2 linked regions of the Homo sapiens genome follow. The protein of the gene in region 1 purifies or fractionates together with the protein of each later gene. This does not show direct contact. Each region holds a gene or a part of one and is shown on either strand. Other genes may lie near its edges.

What was found.
Region 2: the proteins of ATG4C (region 1) and KLHL22 purify together in Homo sapiens (affinity purification with mass spectrometry; 2 studies listed by BioGRID and IntAct, with this or other methods). This does not show direct contact.

The regions. Positions count from the first base shown.
Region 1 is NC_000001.11:62,857,030-62,860,952, reverse strand, and holds part of ATG4C (cysteine protease ATG4C), read right to left. Parts: intron 1-3,923. UniProt on the Homo sapiens protein: Cysteine protease that plays a key role in autophagy by mediating both proteolytic activation and delipidation of ATG8 family proteins.
Region 2 is NC_000022.11:20,468,052-20,471,974, reverse strand, and holds part of KLHL22 (kelch-like protein 22), read left to right. Parts: intron 1-459; coding exon 460-625; intron 626-3,923. UniProt on the Homo sapiens protein: Substrate-specific adapter of a BCR (BTB-CUL3-RBX1) E3 ubiquitin ligase complex required for chromosome alignment and localization of PLK1 at kinetochores.

The sequences.
Region 1 (3,923 bases):
GAGGACAGAAGTTAAGCAATGTATACCATAATAAAGCTAGTAGTTGGTAGGACAGAAATAGAACCAGGAGATGATCACTTCTCCTCAAGCCAAAACTTTTTCCACTAGTCCCTGCCACCATATATGTAAAATTATTCCCCAGTACAGGGCAGTGTATATCTATGTAGCATATATTCACCACACTAGAGCTATACCCTATGTAGGGGTTAAGCTCTAAAGTCAGCCCATACTGCAAAATCAAGCACTGTCAAAAATCACCTTTAACAAGTCTTTAAATTGTTTAAAGGGTGATATGCATAATCTTGTGGATGTAACACTGTTCAGTAATATGTATAAATGTAAAATATATAGTTATGTAAATAGTACAGTCATGTGCCACAGAATAACATTTCAGTCAACAAGGACCACATACAACAGTGGTCCTATAAGATAATAATGCAGCTGAAAAATTCCTATCACCTAGTGTTGTCACAGCTGTCATAATGTCATTCCACAATGCATTATTCACAAGTTTGTAGTGATGCTGGTGTAAACAAACTGATTGTATGGCAGATAAAATTATGTACAGTACATAATATTTGATAATAAATGACTTAGTGGTTTAAGTATTTACTATACAATTTTTTATTATTTTAGAGTGTACTCATTTTACTTTTTTAAAAAGAAATTACCTGTAGAACAGCCTCAGGCAGGTGCTTTAGGAGGCACTGCAGAAGAAGGCACTGTTATCATAGGAGATGACAGCTGCATGTGTGTTACCATCCCTGGAGACCTTCTAGTGGGACAAGATGTAGGGGTAGAAGATAGTGGTATTGATGATCCTGACCCTGGGTAGGCCTAAACTAATGTGTATGTTTGTGTTTTCATTTTTAACAAAAAAGTTTAAAAGGAAAAGAATAAATTTTAAAAATAGAAAAAATCTTATAGAATAAGAATAGAAAGAAAATATCTTTGTAGAGCTGTACAATGTGTTTGTGTTTTAAACTAAGTGCTTATAAAACAGTCAAAAAGCTAAAAATAATTTAAAACTTTATAAAGTTAAAAAGTTACAGTAAGATGGTGAAACCCCATCTCTACTAAAAATACAAAAATTAGCCAGGTGTGGTGGTGGGCGCCTGTAATCCCAGCTACTCAGGAGGCTGAGGCAGAGAATTGCTTGAACCTGGGAGGCGGAGGTTGCAGTCAGTCAAGATTGCACCACTGCACTCCAGCCTGGCGACAGAGCGAGACTCCATCTCAAAAGAAAAAAAAAAGTTACAGAAAGATATGGTTAATTTATTATTGAAGAAATATGTTTTCTCATAAATTTAGTGTAGCCTAAGTGTACAGTGTTTATAAAGTCTATTGTAGTGTACAGTAGTGTCCTAGGCCTTCACATTCACTCACCACAGACTCACTAATTCACCCAGAGCAACCTCCAGTCCTGCAGGTGCCATTCATGGTAAATTCCCTACACAGGTACACCATTTTTTATTTTTTATACCATCTTTTTATAATATCTTTTCTATGTTTAGATACATTTAGATACACAAATACTTACCATTGTGTTATAATTGCCTCTAGTATTCAGTACAGTAACATGCTGTACAGATTTGTAGTCCAGGAGCAACAGGCTATACAGTTTGAATATTCCTTACCTGAAATGCTTAGGACGGAAGTGTTTCCATTTTGGATTTTTTTCAGATTTTGAAATATTTGCATTATATATACTTACTGGTTCAGCATCCCAAAGCTGAAAATCCAAAAATCCAAAATCTGAAATCCTAAATGTCCCAAACAGCATTTCCTTTTAGTATCATATCAGCACTCAAAATGTTTTGAATTCTGAAGCATTTTGGATTTCAGATTTTCAGATTAGGGATACTCAACCCATCCACACAGCCTAGGTGTGCAGTAGGCTACACAAATCCAGGTTTATGCAAGTACATTCAATTATGTTCGCACAACAATGAAATCACCTAACAACACATTTATCAGAATGTATCCCCATCATTAAGCAATGTATGACTGTATATAAAAAAGAGTATACATGGAAAAATATATTCCTGTTTTTTGTTACAAGAGCTCATATAGTCGAACTAAGTGTGCAAGTGATGTTAACTATCCTATTTCCTCACTACACAATCTTAAATCCTTGTATCCAACTTTTACCCCTCACTGTACTTAAAACACTCTCTTAAAAAAATACTTTCTTCTAGCCCTCAAATAAAAAGGCCTGTTATTAGTTCCTATTATTTCTACTGCAATCAACACTGCTGAGTATTTCTTTCTTAAAATACCATTTCCCTGATTTCTGAGATATTTTGCTTTCCTGTTTTTCCTTCTATTTTCTGAACGATTTCTTCTCTATCTCCTCCTTCATTGATTCTACTTATTTCCACATCCCAAAATGCAGATAAAAATCAACTGTTCCTTTATCTTCTGTCTACATTCACTCCTTCTATATTCTCTTCCTTAATATTACCTACTATCTGTCTCAACAATTTCTCTGCTAGGCTTATCATCCATGTTTTTGCAGATGGGAGAACTGAAATATTGAGGGGTTAGGTGACTCGTATAAGGTCACACAACTAGTAACTGACACAGTCAGGATCTAAGCATAGGTAGTTTTGTTCTGGTGTAACCACTACCACCTCCAACAGTAGTCAGTGGAGGCATGACTGCAACATCAACTTAAATTGATCATAAAATTTCCATTTCTTCCTCCTACTATCAATGGCAACAACATTTACATTAATTAGGAATGATTTTGTTGCAAGTGACAAAGAAAGAAATAATAGAAAACAATAACAACAATGTCAAATAATACGAACTGTTTTCACCAGCCTGACATTGCTACTTTGATTAATTGATGTCAGATGAACAGCTTCTACAATTCTCTTGGCCTTTCTCTCTGAATCAAATAGGACTGTTGAAACCCCAAGTGTTTAGTTTAAATTCAAGGAAGGGGCAGGTAGATGTAAGAGGACAGCACTGCATCTACATCCCATTACAGCAGGAGAGCAAAAGCCTTCCCAGAAACTTCCAGCACACACCCACTTATATTTCACTTACACCAAACTATTTCTAAAGAAATAGGAGGCTAGAAAAGCGAGTATTTGGTGGGTACTGTCACTGCAAACAAAATCAGGATTCTTTAGCAAAAAAGAAAGAGGGATGAGTATTGAACAGATAACCAATGGTGTTTGTACACCATTCAGAGATGAGAACCACAATAAAAATAAAACCGGCTCATGTGCTAAGGAAGGACTGGAAGGTTTCTTTAAGATGTGTTGTCAGAAAAGACCAAGCTGCAACCTGAATAACCAGCAGTCCCCAACCTTTCAGGAACAAGGGACTGATTTCATGGAAGACAATTTCTCCACGGACTGGGGGGGTGGGGATGGATTCAGGATGATTGAAGTGCATTACATTTATTGTGTACTTTATTTATATTATTACATTGCAATATATAATATATATAATGAAATAATTACACAACTCACTATAATGTAGAATCAATGGGAGCCCTGAGCTTGTTTTCCTGCAACTAGACTGTCCCATCTGGGGATGATGGGAGACAGTGACAGATCATCAAGCCTTAGATTCTCATAAGGAGCATGCAACCTAGATCCCTTGCATATGCAGTTCACAATAGGGTTCACACTCTTATGAGACTCTAATGCCACCGCTGATCTGACAGGAGGCAGAGCTCAGGTGGTAATGCGAGTAGTGATGGGGAATGGCTGTAAACACAGAGGAAGCTTCGCTCGCTAACCCGCCGCTCACCTTCTGCTTGCAGCCTGGTTCCTAACAGGCCACAGACTGGTACGAGTCCATGGTCCAGGGGCTGGGGGCCCCTGTGAATGACAATAAGGAGCCAGACATAAAAGTTCTGGGCGAAGAGCACTCTAGGCAGGGAAATCAGAGTGTAAAGGTCCTAG
Region 2 (3,923 bases), on another chromosome or scaffold:
GTGCCTGGCCTCCTTCTGCTCTTTGAATGATACTTGGCATTTGGTAGGAACTCCATAAATATACATTGAATGAAATGACTTTTATTAGTTTCCCATTAATTAATTCATTGCTTTGAAATGTGCTCTGGAGTTGCTACTGCTCCGATCCAGGAACTGCACTGATGAACACAGCAGAAGCAAGCTGCTTGTGGCCTCACCTCCCGAAGCTCACATGGGACTCCTTGGGCCCATGAAAAGGGAAACAGGACAATTTCCAGGATGGCTGCCCAGACTTCGTCAGGATCCTTTTGTGGGATGGCTCATGCATGCACACAGTTCACTCAGAGCACAGAGTGGGTCAGCCCACTACCAGGGCCCTGCCACCAGCGCCAGGTTCTTCTCTGAATGCTGTCACTCTTGGCAACATGGGCTTAAGTCCCTGTTGGTATAACTCCATTTTCTTGTGTCTTCACTTTGCAGAGGAATGTTTGCTGGGGGATTGAAGGAGATGGAACAGGAAGAGGTCCTGATCCACGGTGTGTCCTACAATGCTATGTGCCAAATCCTACATTTCATATACACCTCCGAGCTGGAGCTCAGCCTGAGCAATGTACAAGAGACACTGGTGGCTGCCTGCCAGCTTCAGGTGAGGCATGTCTCATCTAGCAAGGCAGACCCACACCCAGGTGGGGTTCCCTGAGATGCCCATGATGCCTGCCGGGCACTAGCATTGGCTTGAAGATGGGTCAGGAATGTGAGGAGACCAAGCAGTGACGAAGGCCATGAAGTGGGGAAGACTCTGGAGTTGTTCCTGGAGCTCAAGCAGAGCCGCTCTAGACACCCCAGGCCTCTGCCTTTGCCCTCTTCTCTATTGCTGGTTGTTTCCCCACTGTCTGAGTCTCCCTGTCATTGAAAGCATCCTGCACATAAGCAGGTAGGCTGACCCGAGGCTGCATGTGGACGTCCTGTGTGCTCTGGGGTCTGGCAATGGGGAGCATCCACCAGCATTGCTGCCAGGGCCCTTCCTGCCTGTCCCCTCACTGGGCCACTTCAGTCTCTTGAAAACTTATGTGTTTTGTTACTGAACTTTATCTATCTATTTGTCTGTCCATCCATCCATCCATCCATGCATGCACGCATCCATCCATCCATCCATGCATGCATGCATCCATCCATCCATCCATCCATCCATCCATCCATCCATCCATCTATCCATCCATCCATGCATGCATCCATCCATGGTGGCAGGCATCCATCCATCCATCCATCCATCCATGCATGCATCCATCCATCCATCCATCCATCCATCCATCCACCCATCCATCCATCCACTCATTCAATTTATTGGAGACAAGCTCTCTCTCTCTTGCCCAGGCTGGAGTGCAGTGGCACGATCACAGCTCACTGCAGCCTCAACCTCCTGGGCTCCAGCAATCCTTCTGCCTCAGCCTCCCAAATAGCTAGGACCTATAGGCATGTGCCACTACACCTGGCTAATTTTTAAATTATTTTTATAGAGATAGAGGCTTGCTTTGTTGCTTAGGCTAGTCTTGAACCCCTGGCCTCAAGTGATCCACCTCAGCCTTCCAAAGTGTTGCGATTACAGGTGTGAGCCACTGCGCCTGGCCTATTTTTTTTTTTTTTTTAAAGACAGGGTCTCACTCTGTTACCCAGGCTGTAATGCAATGGCATGATCATAGTTCACTGTAGCCTCCACCTCCTAGGCTCAAGTGGTCCTCCCGCCTCAGCCTTCTGAGTAGCTGGGACTAAAGATGCGTGCCATTGTGCCTAGCTGATATTATATATATATATATTTTTTTATAGGAATGGGGCCTTGTTATGTTGCCCAGGCTGGTCTCAAGCTCCTGGCCTCAGGTGATACTCCCACCTTGGCTTCCCAAAGTTCTGGGATTACAGGTGTGAGCCTCTGTACCCAACCTGTTATTGAACTTTAAGTACTTGTTTTCCTGCAGAATTCAAAAAGTTTTCTGAGGCTTTGACAGTGTGACTTATGTTTTGGATGATTATTCTCAGTGGTGTGGGTGCAGTTACACGGGACTGGGCCTGCAGGTGCCTTTGAGCTATCAGGCAGAGGCCTGATAGGAGTTGACAGTCACCTCTTCCCACATTTCTTAAAAGTGAAACAAAATGCTATGCTAAGTTCATCATTCTGACCTTTCTTCCCATGAGAGCAGGTTTGACGCAATTAAAAAAAAACAACTCAAGTCACAGGAAAACCAACCTGTTCGGGGGCATGTGGAGGTGCCACCCCATGTGACAGGGCCCTGGCAGCCTCCCTGTGCCCTGTTCTCAGATTGGTGGATAGGACCTGGATGCTGGGTGGGTTGATCTGAGATGACTGACTTGTCTCACCATACCTGCATGGTGAGTAGATGGAGTTGGCTTTTACAACAAAAGAATTTCCCCCTGTTCTTTTATTTAGAGATCTCTTCTGTCCCCACATCCCTGTCATTGTTGCTTTGGGAACCCTCATCCAATTCTCCACCCTGGCAGCAGTTAACTCCTGATTCAGCTGCCTCTGAAACATCTCCCCCAGCATGGCTCAGGTCCAGCTGTCCTATCTCCTCCTCCACACCTGCCACTCTCCCGGAGCTCCCCTGTCAGTCCCCCTGCTCTGTGTGTCCTGTGACCATCCTGCCAGTTCCCTGGGCTCAACCTCAGTGGCTCCTTGAGCCCGTCCACCTTCTTAATTCCCTGCGTCCATGTGAGGACAGGTCATCCTTCTCGGTATTGCTTGTAGCCATCTCTGTTCTGTGTTTCCATTTCCTTCCCTTTTGCCTGGCCTCCATCTGTATGTTTCTGCCATTTCTTTCTTCTCCCTGCAGTGATCACACACACTGAAACCAGATCATCTTTCTAACATCACTTTCCCTCTCTCACCAGTCAGCTTGGAGGCCTGCAGTCTCTCTCTGTTGGTTTGGCCAGTGCTCCCGACAGCCCTGGGTCATCTCCCCCAGTGCCTCAGAGGTCATCTCAGAGGCAGCAGCCTATCTTAGTTTTTTAACATATCAGGCTTCTGGGCCAGGCTTGGAGGTTCATGCCTGTAATCCCAGCACTTTTGGAGGCCAAGGTGAGAGGATTGCTTGAGGCCAGGAGTTTGAGATCAGCCTGGGCAACAAAGCGAGACCTCTACAGAAGCACTTTAAAAATAGCCGGGCATGGTGGCATGCACCTGTAGTTCCAGCTACTCGGGAGGCTGAGGTGGGAGAATCACTTGAGCCCAGGAGGTGGAGGCTTCAGTAAGCTGTGATCACCACACCACTACATGCCAGCTTATCTCAAAACAAAAAACAAACAAACAAAAAAAAACAGGCTTCTTCACAATATTGTTTTATAGCAGGTTTTACTTGGCATAACCATGTCAAGTCCATAGGCCTGTAGAATCATGTATGTTCACATAGCTAGTGACTTTTGGAGGCTTCCCCCATGTGTTGTGCCCTGCAGTAGGCCTGGGACCAGATTCTTCACGGTGTCCCCAGAGGCCTGAGTCTGATTCCCAGTAACACTGTCCTATTGGGTTACCCCAAGCAAATGCAGTCCCTTCTGTGAGCCTCGTATGGGGCTTTTGCACATCCTGAGCCCAGGCTGGTTCCTCTGTGAGATTTCACTGAACAGAAGGCCCACTGCTCTAAAAATAGGACTGAAAGGAGAGTCAGCAGGGTCCTCTCAAGGAGCTGCTGCTGCCCAGGCTTCTTCAGGGCTGTTTGTGCTCACATTCTGCCCAAAACTTGGTCTTCAGGACCCTGGCCCATGACAAACCAGAATTTTAGGAAAACCTAGTAGTTTGGGAAGAAGTGGCAAAGCAGAAGACTGGCAAAAAGGGAAAAAAGAAGGTCAAGTGAAGCTGGTCAGGGCCTAGCAAAGCACCATGGGGATACCTCATGTAGGGCACATACCTGCCTGACATTTGGTAGGTCTCATCC